Homo sapiens: one gene and its partners. The protein of the gene in region 3 interacts with the protein of the main gene of each other region in a biochemical or structural test. Each region holds a gene or a part of one and is shown on either strand. Other genes may lie near its edges.

Region 1 (7,068 bases), on a different chromosome or scaffold from region 3:
GGTCAGGAGTTCGAGACCAGCCTGACTAACATGGTGAAACCCCGTCTCCACTAAAAATACAAAAATTAGCTGGGCATGGTGGCAGGTGCCTGTAATCCCAGCTACTCAGGAGGCTGAGGCAGGAGAATTGCTTGAACCCAGGAGGCAGATGTTGCAGTGAGCCGAGATAGCGCCATTGTCACTCCTGGGTGACAGAAAAAGACCCCATCTAAACAAAAAACAAAAAACAAAAAACAAACAAACAAAAAAACCAAAAAACTTCTTGGAACTTTCCTTAATTTTCCTGAACTCTTCGGTTGGGTTCAAGTCCTGGCTCCAAGGAACTTGCTGTGTGACCTTAGACAAGTCACTTAGCCATTCAGTTGCCTCATCTGCAGAATGAGGATCACAGTCCTTGCTGTGCCCACCTCCTAGAAGCTGGTGAGATTCTCCAGAGGCAGAGAGCTTGCCTTGAGAATGACCAAGGTCATGGGCTCTGGGGACAGCCTGTGCAGTCACCTGTGTACCTGGACTGCTTGGCTTCATGGGCCCAGCGGGGGCATCTGGAGGACTGGGGATGGGGATGGGTCCGAGGCACATACTGATTTGTTGTGAGATCTCGATGAGCTCCATCTCGGTGGGCATGTAGCCCAGGGTCCGCATGCAGGCACCCAGCTCCCGGCAGCCAATGTAGCCGTCCCGGTCTCGGTCAAACTCCTGGAAGGCGACCTGCAGCTCTGCCAGGCAGGGTGGGGTCAGTCCTTCCCCCACAACCCCCTGATCCTGGCCTGGACCCGCCTACCCTTCTCCCTTGGTCCAATCATCCCTCCTTCTGAACATCAGATTCTCTTTGCTGCCTCGGGGCCTTTGCACGTGCTGTTCCTGTTATTTGTTCTTTCAGCAAATATTTGAGGAGCATCTACTATGTGCCAAGCTCTGCTCTAGGCACTGGGGATACAGCAGTGAAATTTTTCAAAAAGGAAGAAAGAAAGAAAGTGGGGGAAACAAATTCTGACCTCTTGGAGATTTCCTCACTCTTCCCCTTCCTCTTTGGTCCTATGTCACCTACTAAAGGAAGCCATCCCTCTACATGTGGCCTCCCCCGGCCCATTTGTCCCTTTCCTGGAGAGCACATGCACCATTTGTACTTGTAGCTGACTAATTGACGTTGGTCTCCAGAGGGCACGGGCCATATCTGTCTAGCTGGCCATGTTTCCCAGTGCTCAGCCAGGGCCAGGCACACAGTGGGCACCCAGGAAGTGTCAGCTGAATGAACAAATATAAAAGGGGCCCTGTCACCTGCCTGGTGAGTGAGACCAAGGAATGACAGCTGGGTGGGGGTCTGTCATCCCCTCCCTGCTCAGTCTTGTCCCCATTTCCCTAAACTGGTCCCCTGCAGCCTTCTTGCTCCCACTTCCTCCTGGAAACACTGAGGCCCCCACCCGATGCCCCCCCAACCCTGTGTCCCCACCCCATGCCCCCCATGCCACCTCCCCTTCAGGGAACCAGTTCCTTCTCCAACCCTTTACCTTCAATCTCCTCGGGCCGCAGCTCCCGGTCCTGAAGGGCACAGAGGGGTTAGGAATTCCCTGCTCCTACTGATGACTGTGCCCTTCCTTCTTGCTTCCCGGGGCTCCCCACCCAGCCCCACAATCCAACACGCACACGCAGGGCCTGTGTCTGTCTGATTGCTCGGCCCTGGTTCCCACCCCATCCTACTCACTGGCCTGGGTAACCGGGTGCCCCCTTCCCTGCTTCTGGCCTAGGTCACTCCTTGGGCCGTCCTCACCTACTCCATCACCCTCTTCTGGGGCAGGGGGCTCCCTTTGCTGGTGGTGGATCTGGGGTTTGGGCAGAACCTCAGACTTGGTCCCGCCAGCCTCAATGTCACTGTTGATCTCTCTTCCATTTCTAGAGTCATTGCTCTCTCCCCTCTCTGCACCCCCACCCCAGATCTGTGTACCTTTGCTCTGATGTCCCCACTCAATCCTCTTCCCCCTAGCTCCAGGAGAGGCAAAGCGAGGGGCAAGGGTAGGTGGGCTGGAGTGCGAGGGGCAAGGGCAGGTGAGCTGGTGGGAGAGGGGCAAGGGCAGGCAGGCTGGCGGGCGGGTGGCCGTACATACGAGTTGGGTGGCGGCAATGCTGGGCCGCAGGAAGATGCAGGCAGGCCCCACCAGGCTGTTGAGCACCGAGTAGCCCTGGACGCCTGGCGCGGGGTCCCCCTGCTCCTTGGGGCTGGAGCTGGGGCTGGGGCAGGAGCCCCTTGGTGGGGAGCCGAGCCACTGCAAGGGGTCCTGCAGCAGAGCCGGCCGTGAGCTGGGGCAGTGGCCGCTGAGCTCTGGGCCTGATAGCCCTCCCCACTCCTCTCACCAGCTGCTCCTGTCTTTGGAGCCCGGCATGGGACAGTAGGGAAGGGGCTGGGGGGTAGAGAGAGGACCCTCACCCGTGAACTCTTTAGGCAGAAAGGGTCAATCCTCTAACTGTTCTGTTGGGCAAACTGAGGACCAGAAAAGGCAAGAGACTTGGCCAAGGCCACTGAGAAAGCCAGCGGCAGAGAGGGACCTTGTGCCCAGCTCTGTCTCCTAGATGGAGGCTGGCTAGCAGAGAGCGGGGACCTGCAGCCGGGATGGGGCAGCTGGACGGGCAGCTGGGGGACCTGGAGCCTGGCAGGGGAGACCCAGAGGTCGGTGGGAGCCAAGATCAGGATGGCCAGAGGCTGTGGCTTCCAGGAAAAAAATCTCCACCTGGGGCAGTGGGCAGCCCCCAACCCCGCCCGGCCCTCGGAGGGCTCTGCCCATCCCATCTGACCCTCAGGGTCCATTCCAGCCTCCTGGCCTGGGTTTCTCCCCTGACCCCTCCTACCTTAGGGCCCCGGCGCCAGGGCCGCTTGGCACAGTTCCCCATGGGCCCTGAACCATGCCAGGCCTGGAACCCCGGGGGTGGCCCGGGTGGGCCTCGGCGGATGCTGCTGCCTGAGGACTCCTGCCAGCCCCCAGCTGCTCCCGATGAGAGCCTGGGAGTACTGCCGGGGATTTTCCTGGGGTTTTGTGGGGAAGATCGGGGGCGGGTGGGCAGGCGGGGGACTTGGGCCTGGGGCTTGGGTCCTAATCCGGGATTATCTTTGAGCGTCTCCGCTGCTGAGGGGAGCCACTTGGGCCCAAGGCCCCCTGGAGAGCACAGCCTCCCCAGACTGCCTCCTGAGGGTCTTCCAGACGCCCCTTCTCCAGCACCCTCCCCCAACCCCTGCCTCTAATCTCTCCCAATCAGGGGAGATTTAATGTCTTCAGAAGCAGGGCCTGGGTCCCAGGAGGAGGAAGGCAGGCGTGCAGTGTGCCAGGGTGGGCTGGGCCCTCCGAATGGCACAGATTCCGGTTGGTATGGACACGCGGGCCTTCCCACACAGCCTCCCAGAAAGAGGCAGCCACTTGGCTCAGCCCAGGAAGCCCCTGCCTCTCCCTGCCAGGACCCCAGCTGGGCCCTGGGCTCCTCACCTCGGGGTAGCCCCAATTGCTTGCACTTGGCTCCCCCTGCCTGGACTGGTGCCCCGCCCTTGGATGAGGAGCAGAAGGGAACCGCCTATGTGCTGTGGGCAGTGACAGGGCTCGGTGAGGGTGGAGATTGGGAAGGGAAGCCACCCCGGCCCTGCCGACCTCAGAGAGTCTCCCATTGGACTCTGCCTCCTGGTCCCCTCCCTGGACTAAGTCCTGGGTCTGTCCTCCGGGGCCCCCAGTTGGGGTGTGGGGTCCCTGCTCTTTGTTCCTGGTCCCCTCATACCCCTGCCCGCATTACCTGCCCGTAGGCTGCCTGCACCTGGGCCTCGAGCTCCCGGAGAAGCTCTCGTCGCCGGGTGGCTGCTGGGCTGCCAGGGGCCTGGCTGGTTCCTGGAGTGCCCTCAGAGGGGCTGGGGTCCCCCGTTGGGAGGCTGCCCTCTGCTGGGCCCTGGGGCTGGGCCATGGAGATGAGGGCTTGGTACCTCCTCCTGGCTGAGGGACGCTGCTCCGTCCGGCCTCCCCAGTCCTGCGGGAGAGTGGTCTTGTGGGCAGCCACAGGTGTGGCCTGGGTCCCTGCTACTCTTCTTTCTGTCCCTTCCTCCATAAACTGGGAGAGCCCCGTGTCCCCAGAGTCTTGTATCCTCCCTAGCTCCCCGTGGCCCCTCGTGTGGCCCTGTCAGCCTGGTGAAGCCCCTCATGCTGGTCACAGACTGTGCCCGGGGCTCCACCTGATCATCCTTGTGGCCCCAGTGGTCGGCCCTCCTGCCTGCCTTTGGCCTCCTCCCCCGCAGTGTTCTGCCTGCATCTCTCTGGCTCACGCGCACCTGATGCCCCACACACCTCCTTGCTCAGTTTCCATCTCACCGCCTGCCCCTCTGTGCCCCCTCTGCCTCTGTGTCTGTTTTGCCTGCAGCCCCGTCTCCATCCCCTCTGACTCGCCGCCATCTCTGTCAGTCTGGATCCAGTGGTGTCTCTGCCGTCTCTGACCCACTCAGCCCATCTCTCTGCTGGCTCCTTCCCTCTGTTGCTGCAAGGTCCTTTCTTGCATTGGTCTTTCTGTCTGTCCTTCCTTGCTCTTCCTATTCTCCCCACCATCCCGCTCCCAGGAGAGCTCCAGAATTCTGGAAAGGCCTTCCCCATCTCCCCAGCCCAGAGCCCTAGGGTCCGTCTGTGCTGCCCACCTCCCTGCCTCCCTCCCTCCTCCCCAGGGTCCCTCTGTGCTGCCCCCTCCTTCCCTCCCTCCTCCCCAGGGTCCCTCTGTGCTAGCCCCCTCCTTCCCTCCCTCCTCCCCAGGGTCCCTCTGTGCTAGCCCCCTCTCCTCCCCAGGGTCCCTCTGCATTGCCCACCTCCCTGCGTTCTGCCAGGACCTCCACCTGGTCCTGCTGACCTTCAACCTCTTGCTTCTCAAGGAAAAGGGGTGGAGGTGGGCCGGGCAGCCCCTGCTGGCCTCTCAGGCTTCCTTGCCATGACCCCAGCCCACTCCCCACCCAGCTGCCCGCTCTTCAACTCCCAGAATGAGGTCATCATCCTGCCCCGGCTCCATTCCAGGCCCCTCATGATTTATTCATCTGTCCCCCACACTGGCCTTTGTCTAAGGGAACCAGATCCCACTAGGTGCTGCCACCTGAGCTGGTGGCTCTGGCCTCTCTCAGCCACATGCGGCCATCTATTCATGTATTCCCTCAGCAAACAGCTGAGGCTGGCTGGGCCAGCTTCTGGGGCTATGTGACAGACCCCATCTGTCCAGAGAAGCCCACTCTCAGGCATGTCTAACCAGGAAAAGAGCCACCAGACAGTCTCCAAGTACTTGGGGTCCTTGGCCCAGGCATCAGGGAGGCTTCATGGAGGAGGTGAGGGGATAAGGCAATGCTGCAGGCATTGCCTATCAATGTTTAACCTGTGCCTGGCCCTGGGAGAGAGCCAGGGTCCCTGGCACGGATCAGCCTTGAACTTGGAGTGCCCCAGGAGCTGGAACCTGGCAGGTGGGTTGGATGGAGGCCCTTGGGAGGGAGGAAGGGGCTAGTGGCCTCTGGAGAGGGTATAGGTGGCAGGAGGTCAGAGAAAATTTTTGAGAGGCTGAATCTGCAGCAAACGTTTGTCCGGCCCCTGCTCTGTACCTTCCTGGGTGCTGGAACTAGTCCCTACATCCTGGAACCTTTCACCTGCTGGGAGATGCCTATTCAGCAAACCAGAATGACAGTGGCCAGGGAAGTGCAGGAAGGGCCAAGGTTCTCAGGAGGGAGGACTTGGCCGGGCGTGGTGGCTCACGCCTGTAATCCCAACACCATGGGAGGCCAAGGCAGGCGCATCATTTGAGGTCAGGAATTTGAGATCATCCTGGCCAACATGGCAAAACCCCATCTCTACTAAAAATACAAAAATTAGCTGGCGTGGTGGCGCATGCCTGTAATACCAGCTACTCGGGAGGCTGGGGTATGAGAATCACTTGAACCTGGGAGGTGGAGGTTGCAGTGAGCCGAGATCGCCCCACTGCACTCCAGCCTGGGTGACAGACTGAGACTCTGTCTTGAAAGAAAGAAAGAAAAAAAAAAAAAAGAGGGAGGGCCTTGCTTGATGGGGTTGAGGAACTGACATGCTAGCCAAGAGCAGAGGATGATGGGAATGGCTGAGCAAAGGGAGGGGGTGGCCTCACAGACAGAGGAAAGCCTCCACATCTGAGGACAGGCCGGGGTTGAGAAGTGAGTGGAAAGGCTGGTTGTGATCATTCCCATTGCTTCAGCCTTCAGTGTCCTTCAGTCCCACCTCTGCACATGGAGAGCAGGAGCGGCCTGGTTTCCCAGGCGGTAACGTCTCTGAAAACATTCATCGGAGACAGAAATTCTCCTCTGCAAGACCACAGAAAGGGCCGGCAGGCCTAGGTTCCCCCATGCACACACCGTGTCACCCTGGGAAAGGTATGTCACCTCTTTGAGCCTCAGTTTCGTCATCTGAAAAGTGGAGGTTGACCTAGCATCTGCCTCCCAGTGCCATTGTGGAAATTAGATGACAGGACCTGGCAGGTTCCTGGCACATAGGAAGGTGCAGAACGTGGTGGGCACCACACGTGATGAATGGTCTAAAGAACCATCTTTGAAAGTGGAAAATGGTGAGAAATGTATGTCCCAAAGTATAATCCAAAACAGTGGGGTCTGTAACCACTCAGAGTATAGGGGGTAAAAAAGTTTTCAGTCAGGGAGCAAAGGCCTTGTGTCTAAGTGGAGGAGAAAGCCTGGCTTGGAGATCCCCCTGCTTGTGTTCAATCAGCAGCATCCTGGAGCTCTCATCTTGGTGCCCTCAACTTGCCCAGCCTGACTTAGCCAAGCTGGGGTCCTGGCTCCAGTGTCCAGGATGGGTGGATCAGGGGTTTGACTAATGGGTAGACAGAGGGAAGGATGGGTAGAAGGATGGTTGGTTGGGTAAAATGGGTGGTTGGATGGATGGGTGGATAATTTGATGAACTGGTGTTTAAATGGACAGATGGATGGATAGATGAATGGATGGACCGGAGGATGGATAGTTGGGTTAGTAGATGAGAAGTTGGATGGATGGACAGGTGAATGGCTGGCTGGCTGGAAGGATGGGTAGGTGATTTGATGGG
Region 2 (7,025 bases), on a different chromosome or scaffold from region 3:
AGTATTAAAAACTCAATAGAAATAGGATTTTTGATTTGTTGTTGTTAAACATATGTAATTTAAGGTTGGTACAAACAGCAACTAAAAATGTAATACTTTTTTGTTTTTGTGCATCCCCATGAAATGTAAAGTAGTGCATAGTTATTCCACTGGAGAACTCCTGGACATATAGAAAGTCATTCGTTAGCAGTACAGGACATTTAAAACACTTATTTTACAATGGGAAATGTACAACCCCCACCCTCATTTCCCCCAGAAATTTTAGTTGCATGAGAAAGTTTAGCGGGTTGCCATGACTACAATGCTATGGGTTTTAGATCACTTAAATGTGGTTACAGGTTTATTAAATTAAAAATGTCTGAAACATTTCAGCATTCATATTTTTATACAAGAAGTTTGTGTGGTATCCATCTTCCAGTTCTCTTGGTAGTATCAGCCATTTGCTTGCTTATTTTTAAGTTTTGAGAACAAATCGCAGTAAGTTGAAGCAAATAGTGCTAACAGAACTTGTAAATTCAGCTTGGGGGGTGGTTCCTGAAAAGAGTCAAAGTAACAACCACCTACAGGTACAGTCATGAACCAGGAAAGTGCAATCCAAATGAAAAAATTCATGCTTTGCAAAAGCCAAAAATGAGGCCACTGGTGTTTTCAGAATAACACCGGTGCTTTGATGCTGACTTGCAGTAAAATCCTCCCTCTGGGTCCCGCAGCTTGGTGGCTCAGGCCGGCCACAGTCTCCACATTAGCACCCACATTGTATATGTACAGGGACATATATATTATATATATTCATATTTATAAAAAAGAAAACAAAAACAAACACCTGTCCTGATTGGTTTTTGTTAAAACATGAAAAAAAATTTTATTGTTTTAGACAAAGAGGCCACTTTTGGAAAATAATACTTTTTTTTTTTTAGTTGAATCAGGTGAAGACAGAGTTAAAATCACATAGGATTTGCATTTTTAAAAAAGGAAAGCACTAGGATTGTTGGCACTGGAGTAACTATTTACACTGAACAGAGGTTTGGCCTTTTACATAACATCGATACAATGCATTTTCCAAAGTCTGAGAAATAACAAGGTTCTGTCTCGAATGCTTCACAGAGGAGGTTCGGATTTGGGGACAAGTGTCATTAATGAGGGCCATGGAAGTTCGTCAGCTTCAGAGTCACATGCAATCTGATCCTGGGCGGTTCCGCTGCTGGGGAGCAGCTGGCTACGGAATTGAAAGCTAATGGGGAGGGGTGGGGCAGCCTCTGGGACAAGGCCTCTCTCCGCAGACCCGGGCCTTACAGGTTTTCACCAGGTTGGTACTGGGGCTCTGTCGCGGTAAAGTAGTCTTCCAGGAAGCTCTGCAAGTACTCAAAAGTGGGGCGTTCTTCAGGGTCCTTTTTCCAGCAGTGGATCATGAGCTCATGCAGAGAGATGGGGCAGTCCTGCGGGCAGGGCATCCTGTAGCCTCGCTCCACCTGCTCCAGCACCTCCCGGTTGTTCATGCCTGCAAAGACAAGCGCAGTGAGAGTGGGCACCCCGGGGATCCAGGCCCTGACCGCCGCACTTGCAGATCCCCTTTCTTCTTCTTTGCGTCTGCATGTGGCTAAAACATGCGGAGTACTCCCATCCCCCCAGGAGTCAAACCCTGCCATGCTACTCAGGAGTAAAGAAGGAGTGCAGAACTGAGACATGAAAAATTCAGAATGACTCTCAAAACATGATAAGTGAAGGAAGCCAGACACAACAGGCAACATACGGTATGATTTCATTCATGCGAAATTCTAGAAAAGGCGCAACTACATCTATAGAAAGCAGATCAGTGGCTGCCTGGGGGAGGGGAGGAATCCCTGCCAAGGGGCCAGAGGGAACTCCAAGTGGGATGGGAATGTTCTGTCAGGGTCAACGGGTCAACAAACTTTTCCTGTAAAAGGCCAGACAGTAAATATTTTTGGCTTTGCGGGTCACATATGATCCCTGTCTTCTTCTTTTTAACAACCCTTTAAAAACGTACAAAACAAACACAGGTTGGGAGCCAGACCTGCCAACCCCTGTTCTATATTATGTATGGGGTGGTGTGACTGTTTATGTTTGTCAAAACTCAATAAACTGCATCCTTAAAATTGTTGAATTTTATTGTGTGTAGATTATACTTCAATTAAACTGACAACAATATATGAATAAAGCAGACAAAAAAATCCACACAGAATGAAAGCATGCTGCCCCTTGTTTATAGCATTTATAAACTCCATTTATGAACTTCATAAATTCGTTTTCTTCATGCCTGGGCAAACTCTTAGTTCCCCACTGTTGGAGATCTGCCATCATGCCAGCGTGGCTGGGCACTGTCTGGCCCTGCAACCCCACAGTGCCCTGAGGTTTGGTGAATTTGATGGGGAGATAGACCATGTCCGGGGCCTATCTCTACTGATGACTTCAGCCAGGCCATCCATCATTTGAGGTTTTTCTGACTCTTGGGAAGCTGTTGAAACACTGGGCTGCATAGCACTAACAGAAGACAGATCGCTAACTCCTCAGAGAGTGCGGCCTCCTGCACACTGGCTGCCTTAACACTACAGGAACTACCATGCTTAGGGGGTGGCCAGTGTCCTGACCTCCTCCCAACTACTGCCAGCCACTATTCTCTAGTTTTGCTTCCCTTTTTCATTGTATCACCTTCTGCCAGCTCCCCGTCAAGCTGTGCTGTGCTTTGGTTGCTTCCTGGCCGGTGAGGCTGTCATCTGGAATCCTCCCCAGTATCTGACCCGGTTAATTTGCAGGAGCAAGAACCCGATGTCAAGCCATATAGAAACCAAGATTTCTTCCCCTATTTCCCAGGGCTACAGCCAGCAGGAGCACACACCATATGCATGGAGCTTCCTTTACTTCTAGGGGAGGTGGCGACCCGTTAGCTAGAAACTTGTCAGCACAGCCAGAGGCGCTGGGCCAGAGCACAGCCTGTCCCCCTGCAGAGGGAACACTCGGACTTCGGGGTCTGTTGCCAGTCCTCTTGGTTGTGTTGTTACTTGTGGAGCTGAGTGTATCCTGGCTCCTCCTGGCTGTCAACCACAGCCTGTCAGTCACATGTCTCTCCAGACCTTTTCAGGATGCTTTCTTATTCTCTGCCATTATCATTTCTTGAGGTAATAAAAATTCACATATTGTTTCTGCTGTACTGAAGTAGGCCTTCAATGCAATTATTGTAAAATAACCTCACTCACGTGTCAGGGCGACCCCTTATTTTAGGGAGAGAGGTTTGGTGAAGGAGTCAGGGTCCCTGCCTCTGTGCCATGCATGCCTTTACCAGCGACTTCCTCAGTTGCATGGGAGGAGTGAGAGGCAGCGCTGTGGCTAATTAGCCTACATCCTCCTCCAATGGCTGAAAATGGGGGATGGGGGCGGGGAGCTGGAAGCAAGGGAGGAACTGGAGCATGCTCGGGAATGAAAGGCAGCCTCCTCCGGCTCTAGATAAACGCGGACAGAGGCCAGCATTTCCTTCTCCACAATTCCACCATCCAACGAGCTCTGAACACCATCAAGTTTTTGTAACTCACTTGACTACAGAACTGATCTGAACTGACCTCATCTGGCCACAAAACCTGAACTGATTACGAGGCTATTTACTGTTTTTATTTCTTCATACATATTGCCCAGAAAGATTAGGAAGAGTGTGTAATCACGTAGCAGAACTGGCACTCTCCAAAGCATTTGCCTTGCCGCATCTTTTAGTACTGTCCTTGGTTTCATATTTCAGCAATGACAGAGCTTGGACCAGCAGAAATCTCCCTTGTCTCTGTCCCTTCCAGGAGTCCACAGGAACTGAGGGGAAACAGGCAGAAGGGCCTGACAGATCCTTCTGGGTGCGGTTACAGCCCCTGAAACGCCTCCTAATGCTTGACTCTGGCTCTGAGTGCCTCCCTCCAAAATGGCAGCACAGAGTTTAATTAATCACTCTCCTATTGCTCCACAGAGCGCATGTCAGTACATGTTTCATTTCATTAAAAAACAAACTACTCAAATGGAAAGATTTCACTTAAAAAAAAAGTTTTCATCCAATGTCTGCCAATGGAAAGTTTAATTGGCCACTGGGTCATTTTTCCAGTGCTCGGTCCAAGCCTCAGACACAGCACACTTGGTGATGTGAACCTCAACATGTAGCGTCTCCCGAGGCAGTCTTTCCTGGGCATTTGGAGCCAGGGGACAGGGCATAAGCTGGCCCATGCAGGGTCCTGGCAGACCCACATGGTCAGGCTCCTTCTCGCTCTCCCCTTTCCTGTCTGCACCCCTCCGCTCTTCCCCACTCCTCTTCTTCTCCTGCTTTCTTCTGCCCAGACCTCTCAAAGCAAGGGGAGTATATGAAAACAATTCCACGCACTGGGCCAAGTGGAAACATACCAATGAGGGCTTTGCCAGGAAAGTGGGATATTTTGACAATGCACTTGGCTGACAATGACAATTGGAATGGGACTAGCTCTTTTCCAACCATCCATAAACCAGGACCTGCAACGGGCTGACCTGCAGACCTGGCAACTTCACAATGTACCTCTGCAACAATAACGGTGGCAATCAAGATATGCCCACTCAGCAAGGCTTGGGCTAGTTTTTATTTTATAAACAATAGCTAAATTGAATGGATTGTGTTAATTCAGGGTGAGTATCCCTTCTCTGAAATGCTTATGATCAGGAGTGTTTTAAATTTCAGATTTTTTAGGATTTTGAAATATTTGCATTATAGGGCTGCTCAACCAGTAAGTTGAGCATTCCCTTTGCGTGTTATGTCAGTGCTCAAGAAGCTCCAGATTTTGGTGCATTTTGAATTTCATATTTTTGGATTAGGGATACTTAACCTGTATTTAAAATACAGTATTCTCAGCTATATGAATTTTGAAAATCATGGTTTTTTTAAATAATTTTTTTTAAATGGCTTTTACTCTGCACACTAACAAAAAGATAGGTCTACTTCATTTTTTTCTTCTTAGATGGTTTCATATTTTTGTTAGAAAGAAAACTGTCATTTCCTCTTTTTAGCCACTTTTCCCCAAGACATTGGCTTTACCTAATACCTGAGAGGTGAAGGATAGTGAATAGGAAGGGAATAAACACGAGTTTGGGCACCAGGGCAGTTGGGAGAGTGTCTTGAGAGACATGGGTACACTAGAGAGAGGAATCCTTTTATTTTTTATTTATTTATTTTTTTTTGAGATGAAGCGTGGCTCTGTCATCTGGGGTGGAGTGCAGTGGTGTGATCTCGGCTCACTGCAGCCTCCACCTCCCAGGTTCAAGCAATTCTCCTGTCTCAGCCTCCTGAGTAGCTGGGACTACAGGTGCATGCCACTACACCTGGCTAATTTTTTATATTTTTAGTAGAGACAGGGTTTCACTATGTTGGCCAGGCTGGTCTTGAATTCTTGGCTTCAAGTGATCTGCCCACCTCGGCCTCCCAAAGTGCTGGGATTACAGGTGTGAGCCACCATGCCCAGCCAGAAGAATCTTTTTATTACACTTCCAACTGAGGAGGTGGACAAGAGTGCTGGAAATGTTTTTCCTTTTTCTCCTTTTTTTTTTTTTTTTTTTTTTTTGAGACAGAGTCTCGCTCTGTTGCCCAGGCTGGAGTGCAGTGGCACAATCTCGGCTCACTGCAACCTCCACCTCCCTGGTTCAAGCAATTCTCATGCCTCAGCCTCCTGAGTAGCTGGGATCCTTTTTCTCCTTTCTTAACAGAAAGAAGAGACAGAAACTTTATAAAACATGGTGTCTGAGCACATTTTAGGGAAACAATGTCATAAACAGTTTGGCCTTCCAGGTTTCCTAGTGGGAGCTGCAAGGGAGAGCATTTTTCAACAGGAGGGGAGATCCTGGCTGGCCAGTGGTGTCTGACTGTGGGAAGAGCCACGTTCGAGCAGTATGAATGTTCCCTGGTTCCCACAGAGAGGCGGCTTGGGGCTGGGGAGCCAGCAAGCACAGAGGCCACTGCCCAATTTTGTTCCAACCCTCTCCTCCTCTGCTGTTCTGCCCTTCTAGCCTCACGGGAGCCACCAGCCCCTTCTGCTGTCTCTCTAGAATTGCTCAGGAAAACAGGCCATTGTGGTGGGTCACTTTCATAGGGTACAACTGAACAGTACTCAATCCATAAAACACCTCCAGCACTTCGGGAAGCTGAGGCAGGCAGACCGCTTGAGCTCAGGAGTTCGAGACCAGCGTGGGCAACATGTTAAAACCCTGTCTGTACAAAAAGTACAAAAATTACCTGGGCATGGTGGCATGTACCTGTGGTCCCAGCTGTTCAGGAGGCTGAGGTGGAAAGATTGCTTGAGCCCAGGAGGTTGAGGCTGTAGTGAGCTGAAATGGTGCCACTGCACTCCAGCCTGGGTGACAGAGCGAGACCTTACTAGTCCGCTGTGTGGGGGTCTGCCTTCGAGTCCCTCTTTCCCAGAGCCTCCATGGAACATCTCCTTGTCAACTCAGATTTTAGGCTTTCAAACATGGTCCCCGACATAGCATCATTTCCAGTCAGTCTGCCCCAAACACTGCAACTGAGATTCTCCAGCCAAGAAGACTGTGCTCACTTCCTGCCATTATGATTATATTATCCTTTCTAAATCATGTTGCTGGCTTCCTCCAGCAAACTCAGAGGTCAAGTTTCCAACTCTCACTTTCAAACTCTGACTCTGTAGGGTTGCCAACAGTGTCTATTCTTGTGTGTGTGTTTTCTTTTCCCTTTTCTTTTAAACTTCCCTATTCCACTTCTTTGAGCTGTACATGAACTCAGTAGTCTTCCCTTTTTCCTTTTAGATTCTTTGAAAAAAAATTTTTTAAGGGACAAGGTCTTGCTCTGTCACCCAGCCTGGAGTGCAGTGGCATGATCATGGCTCACTGCAGCCTTGAACTCCTGGGCTCAAGCGATCCTCCTCACACTTCAGTCTCCCAAGCAGCTAGGACTATAGGTATGCACCACCATGCCTGGCTGATTTTTATTTTTATTTATTTTTTTTTTGTAGAGATAGCATCTTGCTATGTTGCCCAGGCTGATCTTG
Region 3 (7,025 bases):
TCTCTCACGCCACCTGCTGGCCAGCTGGGGTCTCCCTGCCATTGTCCTTGTAATAGGGATTGGCCAGAACCCTGAGGACAGGACATTTGTGTCCCCACAGGTATTGGCATCGGTCCCTAAACCCACGGAAGCTGATTGAAGTGAAGTTCTCCCACCTGAGCAGAAATATGACCATGCAGCGCACCATGAAGCTCTACCGACTGCCAGAGGCCAGTGCTGCCCCGGGTGGTGGGCAGGGGGCAGAGAGAGGGCAAGGAGAGCCTGGCTGTCAGCAGGAGAGAAGGGCTCTGGGTGGAGAGGGAGCTTTCTCCTACTGGAAAAGCGAACCAGCCCATAGTCTTCAGATTTCCTGGACTTTCTATTTCTGTTATCTGAAGCAGGATTTTATTTTAGTTTAACTTTCTCAGTTCCTCTGAGTCTGTGCCTGGACTAGCTTCTCTGCCATCTGTTGAAAGGCTCAGAGAACACCTATTCTCTGTAATTTTAGCCTAAGTAAAGCATAAATAGAATGATGAATCCACTTAGTGAACCTTCATACACACGGCAGCGCGTTCCAAAGCCCAGCGCAGATGCACTACAGGGTCTGTGACGCCCCTCTGCCGGGTCAGGTAAAGGGTGACCTGAGCTTGTGAGGGATCCCCGATTTCTAATCCCAATTTCCCCACCCAGATTTGGCTGAAGGACTGGGCAACCTTAAAGTGAGCTGCTTTTCTGTTCTGGGTCTCAGTTTTCCTAGTTTCCCAAAGAAACAAATGCTCCAACTGTGGCTGGCTTCAGGTAGGGATTCTTTTTTTTTTGTTTTGAGACAGGGTCTCATTCTGTTGCCCAGGCTGGAGTGCAGTGGCACAGTCACAGCTCACTGCAGCCTCGACCTCCCAGACTCAACTGATTCTCCCACCTCAGCCTCCCAAGTAGCTGGGACTACAGGCGTGTGCCGCCATGCCCGGCCAATTTTTGTTTTTATAGAAACGGGGTTTTGCTGCCAGGCGCAGTGGCTCACGCCTGTAATCCCAGCACTTTGGGAGGCTGAGGTGGGCAGATCACGAGATCAGGAGATCAAGACCATCCTGGCTAACACGGTGAAACCCCGTCTCTAGTAAAAATATAAAAAATTAGCCAGTCGTGGTGTGGTGGGTGCCTGTAGTCCCAGCTACTTGGGAGGCTGAGGCAGGAGAATGGCATGGACCCGGGAGGTGGAGCTTGCAGTGAGCCAAGATCACGTCATTGCACTCCAGCCTAGGCGACAGAGCGAGACTCCGTCTCAAAATAAAAGAAGCCTGGGCGTGGTGGCTCACGCCTGTAATCCCAGCACTTTGGGAGGCCAAGGCAGGCGGATCACGAGGTCAGGAGATCGAGACCATCCTGGCCAACACGGTGAAACCCTGTCTCTAATAAAAATACAAAAAATTAGCTGGTCGTGGCGTGGCGGGCACCTGTAGTCCCAGCTACTTGGGAGGCTGAGGCAGGAGAATGGCATGAACCTGGGAGGCGGAGCTTGCAGTGAGCCAAGATCGCACCACTGCACTCCAACCTAGGCAACAGAGCAAGACTCCGTCTCAAAAAAAAAAAAAAAAAAAAAAAAAAAAAAAAAAGAAGGCCAGGCGCGGTGGCTCACACCTGTAATCCCAGCACTTTGGGAGGCCTAGGCGAGTGGATCACGAGGTCAGGAGATCGAGACCATCCTGGCTAACATGGTGAAACCCCGTCTCTACTAAAAATACAAAAAAAAATTAGCCGGGCTTGGTGGTGGGCGCCTGTAGTCCCAGCTACTCGGGAGGCTGAGGCAGGAGAATGGCGTGAACCCGGGAGGCGGAGCTTGCAGTGAGCTGAGATAGCGCCATTGCACTCCAGCCTGGCCCACAGAGCGAGACTCCATCTCAAAAAAAACAACAACAACAAAAAAAGGATTTTGCCATGTTGCCCAGGCTCATCTGAATTCCTGGGCTCAAGTGATCCACCCACCTCAGCCTCTCAAAGTGCTGGGATTACAGGCATGAGCCACTGTGCCCATCCCAGTAGGGATTCTTAAAATCCCTTCTCAGGTGGGCGGTGGCTCACGCCTGTAATCCCAGCACTTTGGCAGGACAAGGCGGGTGGATCACGAGGTCAAGAGATTGAGACCATCCTGCCAACATGGTGAAACCCTGTCTCTACTAAAAACACAAAAATTAGCTGGGTGTGGTATGTGCCTGTAATCCCAGCTACTTGGGAAGCTGAGGCAGCAGAGTTGCTTGAACCTGGGAGGCAGAGGTTGCAGCGAGCCGAGATCGCACCATTGGACTCCAGCCTGGCGACAGAGCAAGACTCCGTCGCAAAAAAAAAAAAAAAAAAAAAAGGAAAGAAAGAAAAAATCTCTTCTCTTTCCTCGGAGTGCTTCTTCCTATTGGTCATCAGTGCACACAGTCACTGCGTTCCTGCTGACATGAGGCTGCCTGCCTGGACTCCTCAGCCTCTAAACAGGATTGATCACTCTGAAATCAGGCTAATCCACCTAGTGATTGGGGTCATTAGTGTCCCATCTTGAGAGACTGCTGCAGTACCGTTAGACACTGCCAAAAGCACAGGCTTGGGGGACTGTGGTATGTGTCTTCTCCCTTCTGTTCTCATGACAGATCTGCCTTGCGTTCTAGGCCGGTGGGCAGGCAGGCAGAGAGCATTCTTAGAGTGCTGCAGCAGCAGAAGAATGTCTCACCCATGTCTGGGTGGAAACCCCAGCATGGCTGTGTTTTCAGTCCAGGATTTGAGGTATCATTGTGGGAGCTGCCATGTAGAATGAGGTCATTGAGCGTTCCCCTAAAGAGACGAGGATTTAGCAAGGAATTTTAGAGGCTGGAGGTTCTAGAACTGAAGTTTTAAAAGCAATTCCTGCACTGGGAAGCATTGTGTCAGGCACTGACTGAGGCCTGTAAACTGTGACACCACCCTGTTTGCAGATTGCCCCAAGGCCACCTTTGTGTATCTGAGCCTCTGGGGATGTTCTACCAGCCCCGGTATTTGCTCCACAGGATCACATGGTTTCATTCCACTGAAGCATTTTTCTAGCAAAAGCAGCTGCCGGGTGGGACGCTGACTGGGGATAAAATCCTGGGAGTATGCTGCTTTTCTTCTGAATGTAACCCACAGCCGTGTCTCTCTGGGAAGTACTGGTGTAATAGTGTCTGGGTGGGCAGACCCTGGCTGGGCCCTGGGGTCTGTCCGCGAAGTGCTCTAAGTCTAGCAGAGAAAGAGCAGTGAGTGTGGGATGGCATCAGTCACAGTTCAGTGAGAAGCCTGTGAGGACTGTTGGGCTGCGTGGGCAGAAGGTACAGCTAGAAAGGCCAACCTGGCCCAAGGGTAGAAATTCTTGTCTTCTGGGGTGGGGAGTTTGAAACAAGGGTGGAGCATGAAGGGTTGTGTTTTCTTAGGGAGTCAGCCTGGGGCCATGTAGATGGTTGATTGATGTAGCAGTCTGAGTCTGCCTGGACTAGGAGGGAAAGGGCCAGAAGATACGGAAGAGGCAGGCCCTGTGCCTGAGGAGATATGCACGGGGGTGCAGGGAGCCGCCGAATGACCAGGGATTCTCTCTTGAGGGCCTGATCTGTCCTTGCCATGGATAGATCCAGGGTGATCAGCTCATCTCACTCCATCTCTTCTGTCTTGCCTCCAGACTCCCAAGACAGCTGGGCTGCGACCAATGGAAACAAAGGACATTCCAGTAGTGCACCAGCTCCTCACCAGGTACTTGAAGCAATTTCACCTTACGCCCGTCATGAGCCAGGAGGAGGTGGAGCACTGGTTCTACCCCCAGGAGAATATCATCGACACTTTCGTGGTGGAGGTGAGTCAGGGAGTGGTGTTCCAGGTCTCTAACACGTTCCCAGAGAGGCACCCCCCTGAGTGGCCGGGTTCCCAGGGCTCGAGTGTTGGCACCTTAGACTTCCTTGACCATCCGTGTTTGGTCCTCCCTAAAAACAGGGAGTTGGTGCTTGAATTTGCTGAAAAGATACCTCTGGATCTGGCTTGAGCCCTTCTCCCCCTCTGCCCCACTTTGATAACACAAAATAGAGAGAACTGAGCCCCGCTTAATCCTTCAGGAAAGCCTGCAATTCCCTGCCTGTCCCAGCTTAACCCAGTGCTGACCAGACATAGGAGACACAGTCTGGGGGGATGTGAGCTGCAAGAAGAGGTCCCTGGCGGTGCCCATGCTGGGAAAGAGGTCTGGCAGGTTCAGCCCACGATCACGGCTCTGTCCTCAAGTGCCCTGAGCCAATGTCCCTCCTCCTCCCCACATGTCCTGTTGCAGTTTCCAGCCATTTATCTAGAGGGGCAGAGCTGCCTGAAGGTGGAGTGAGAGAAACATTTTGTTCCCGGGCCGCAGTGCCACTGTGCATGCTTGACATTGCCTCTTTATTGCCTTCCCTTCAGAACGCAAACGGAGAGGTGACAGATTTCCTGAGCTTTTATACGCTGCCCTCCACCATCATGAACCATCCAACCCACAAGAGTCTCAAAGCTGCTTATTCTTTCTACAACGTTCACACCCAGACCCCTCTTCTAGACCTCATGAGCGACGCCCTTGTCCTCGCCAAAATGGTGAGGAGCAGACGGGGGGGTCTCTGGAGATGTGCAGGGAAGAGGCAGTGGAGCCATGGTGAGCACAGCTCCCGGGACGCAGCCTCCCATGGGCTGGAGGCTCTGAGCCCTCCTCATCTGTTCTGCTTAGGCAGGGTTCCCGCAGTTTTTAGGCAGAAACTCAAAACTTGGAGGGAACAAGGAGCATCCGAAGTGAAGGCATTGAACTCCTCCTGATTCATTTCAGTGAGTTTCGTTCTCACAGGAGGCGCCACCAAGGAGCCTGAATAGCCAGGCCTTCCCTGGGAGGACAGGGCTTCTCCTCACAGCTTTCCCAGCGTGGGAAAGGGGTGATTGCTGTCTGTCGTGGTGAGTCATTGGAGCATCCAACTGCCAGTAGCGGATGGCGAGCCCGTCTGTCAGTGCTTTGCTGTGGGTTCTGGTAACCTGTGCCCAGCCCAGCCCAGCCTGCTGTAGGCAATCTGGTCCCTGCCCTGTGAGAGCTTCTGCTCCAGTTGGTGAGGTTTAGGAAGCATCTTCACAGTCTCCAAGCAACACAGCAGGTGTCATACAACATGAGGTGCACTGAGGGCCTGAGAGTTGGGGCATCCATGGAGTAAGGAAGCAACACAAACCCCATGTAGCTGACCAGAGCCAGCTTCTCAGAGGAATGGGCTCAGGGTTTGGACTCCAGAGAGGACTGTGGAAATTACTAGAGTTTCAGGGAGGCATAACCAGGAATAGCAAGAGCCCCGGCCTGGACACTGAGTACATATGTGTACACTCTGAGGGACACTGGGCAGAGGCCAGGCTGGAGGGGGCGCTCAGAGTGTCCTGAGAACCACCCGGAGAGCGGGGATTAACGTGGAAGCAGCGGAGCTTCTGAGGGAACCTTGTTCTTGTGGCTGCCCACAGGACAGCTTTGAAATGGCAGCAAAGGGGTAGGAAGGAGGCTGTCCCCACCTGTCCTCACCTGTTCTTGTTTGTCCCTGCTGCTTTGCAGAAAGGGTTTGATGTGTTCAATGCACTGGATCTCATGGAGAACAAAACCTTCCTGGAGAAGCTCAAGTTTGGCATAGGGGACGGCAACCTGCAGTATTACCTTTACAATTGGAAATGCCCCAGCATGGGGGCAGAGAAGGTAGGCGACACATAGCCAGAGTCCAGGCTGCCCGGCCCAGGGTGTCCATGTCTCCAGCAGAAACCGGGCCATGGGTTGAGGAGACAGCCGCAGTCTGGGTCCTTGTTACCTCGAGTTGAACCTTTGAAAATGCCCTCCCTCTGCTGGCCAGACCAGCAGGTCAGCGTTCCCCTCTCAGCAACTGGTGTGAGGATGGCAGAGGGGACAGAGCCACACAGTAGCACGAAGATCATCTCCAATGAGGCCTTCCCACGTGAGGGAACCGTGGAAGTTGAGTTGCCCACGGTTTGCCAGGAGGGTAGGGCTGGGGGAACTCTGAGGAGGTTTCCTCTCCTGAGCTGCTGCCCTCTTCTGGCATGACACTTTCTTAGCCCTTCCTCCCCCAGTGCCACAGGGGACATAGGGGTGAGCTGGAGCGTGGGCCAGTTTTCCCTGGGAGGTCTGATGGACGTGTGAACCCTGGTGTGGAGGTTGAGTGTGGGGCCGGCTGGGTGTGAGTCTGCTCCCACAGCACAGGCGGTGGACCCGGGCCCAGCCACTCGGAACTTCAGGGATAGGGGGTGTGGGAGAGTCTTTGGGCCACTGTCAACTCAGCTCTGCCTCTCCCTGTTGGCTTTCCTAGGTTGGACTGGTGCTACAATAACCAGTCACCAGTGCGATTCTGGATAAAGCCACTGAAAATTCGAACCAGGAAATGGAACCCCACCACTGTTGGTCCAATTTTCACACACGTGAGAATCCCTGGCAAAGGGAGCAGAACTGAACCGGCTTTACCAAACCGCCAGCGAACTTGACAATTGTATTGCGATGGCGTGGGCTGCGTGACGTCACCTCCGGTCGTGTCTCTGGTCTCCGTGTTTTCCAGTTAATTACATCCTCATGCAGCCGTGATCAAGGGAATGTAACTGCTGAAAACTAGCTCGTGATTGGCATATAATGGAGTTAACGGGTGAATAATAAAAGTATATATATATATTATATATATATAAATATTTTAAATATCTTTCATGTTCCAAATGTACAAGGATGTTTGGTCTTTAATGAAAAGCTGAATCCAGATCATTCCTCAGAATGAGGACCCGAGGACAGTGGCAGACAGACGCGTTGGCACAGTTCATGGTTTCCTCCAGAGGAGACATTGGCTTATCATGGGGAAAAAGAGGATCTGGAGAACCTCATCCAGCTCCCCTTCTGAATCAGCTGGGATGACTGGCTTTGAGAAGGAAGGGAAGATGGAACAGGCTCAGATCTCATGGGATAGCACGTGGAGCTCTTGGCTGGGGCTGACCCTGGGCAGGGACTTTCCTGCAGGGCCAGACCTGCCTGCATTCTG

Evidence for each region. Proteins that work in one complex are often made in the same cells at the same time.
Region 1: of the proteins of NMT1 (region 3) and CABP2, one has a biochemical effect on the other in vitro, tested with the Homo sapiens proteins (one study listed by BioGRID).
Region 2: of the proteins of NMT1 (region 3) and FYN, one has a biochemical effect on the other in vitro, tested with the Homo sapiens proteins (one study listed by BioGRID).

What each region holds. Positions count from the first base shown.
Region 1 is NC_000011.10:67,520,444-67,527,511, forward strand, and holds the start of CABP2 (calcium-binding protein 2), read right to left. Parts: upstream 3,004-7,068; 5' UTR 2,898-3,003; coding exon of another isoform or gene 2,884-2,897; coding exon 2,842-2,883; intron 2,274-2,841; coding exon 2,103-2,273; coding exon of another isoform or gene 2,099-2,102; intron 1,540-2,098; coding exon 1,509-1,539; intron 717-1,508; coding exon 582-716; intron 1-581.
Region 2 is NC_000006.12:111,660,450-111,667,474, forward strand, and holds part of FYN (tyrosine-protein kinase Fyn), read right to left. Parts: intron 1,499-7,025; coding exon 1,290-1,498; 3' UTR 1-1,289. UniProt on the Homo sapiens protein: Non-receptor tyrosine-protein kinase that plays a role in many biological processes including regulation of cell growth and survival, cell adhesion, integrin-mediated signaling, cytoskeletal remodeling, cell motility, immune response and axon guidance.
Region 3 is NC_000017.11:45,099,305-45,106,329, forward strand, and holds part of NMT1 (glycylpeptide N-tetradecanoyltransferase 1), read left to right. Parts: intron 1-100; coding exon 101-209; intron 210-3,646; coding exon 3,647-3,817; intron 3,818-4,404; coding exon 4,405-4,572; intron 4,573-5,554; coding exon 5,555-5,692; intron 5,693-6,314; coding exon 6,315-6,335; 3' UTR 6,336-7,025.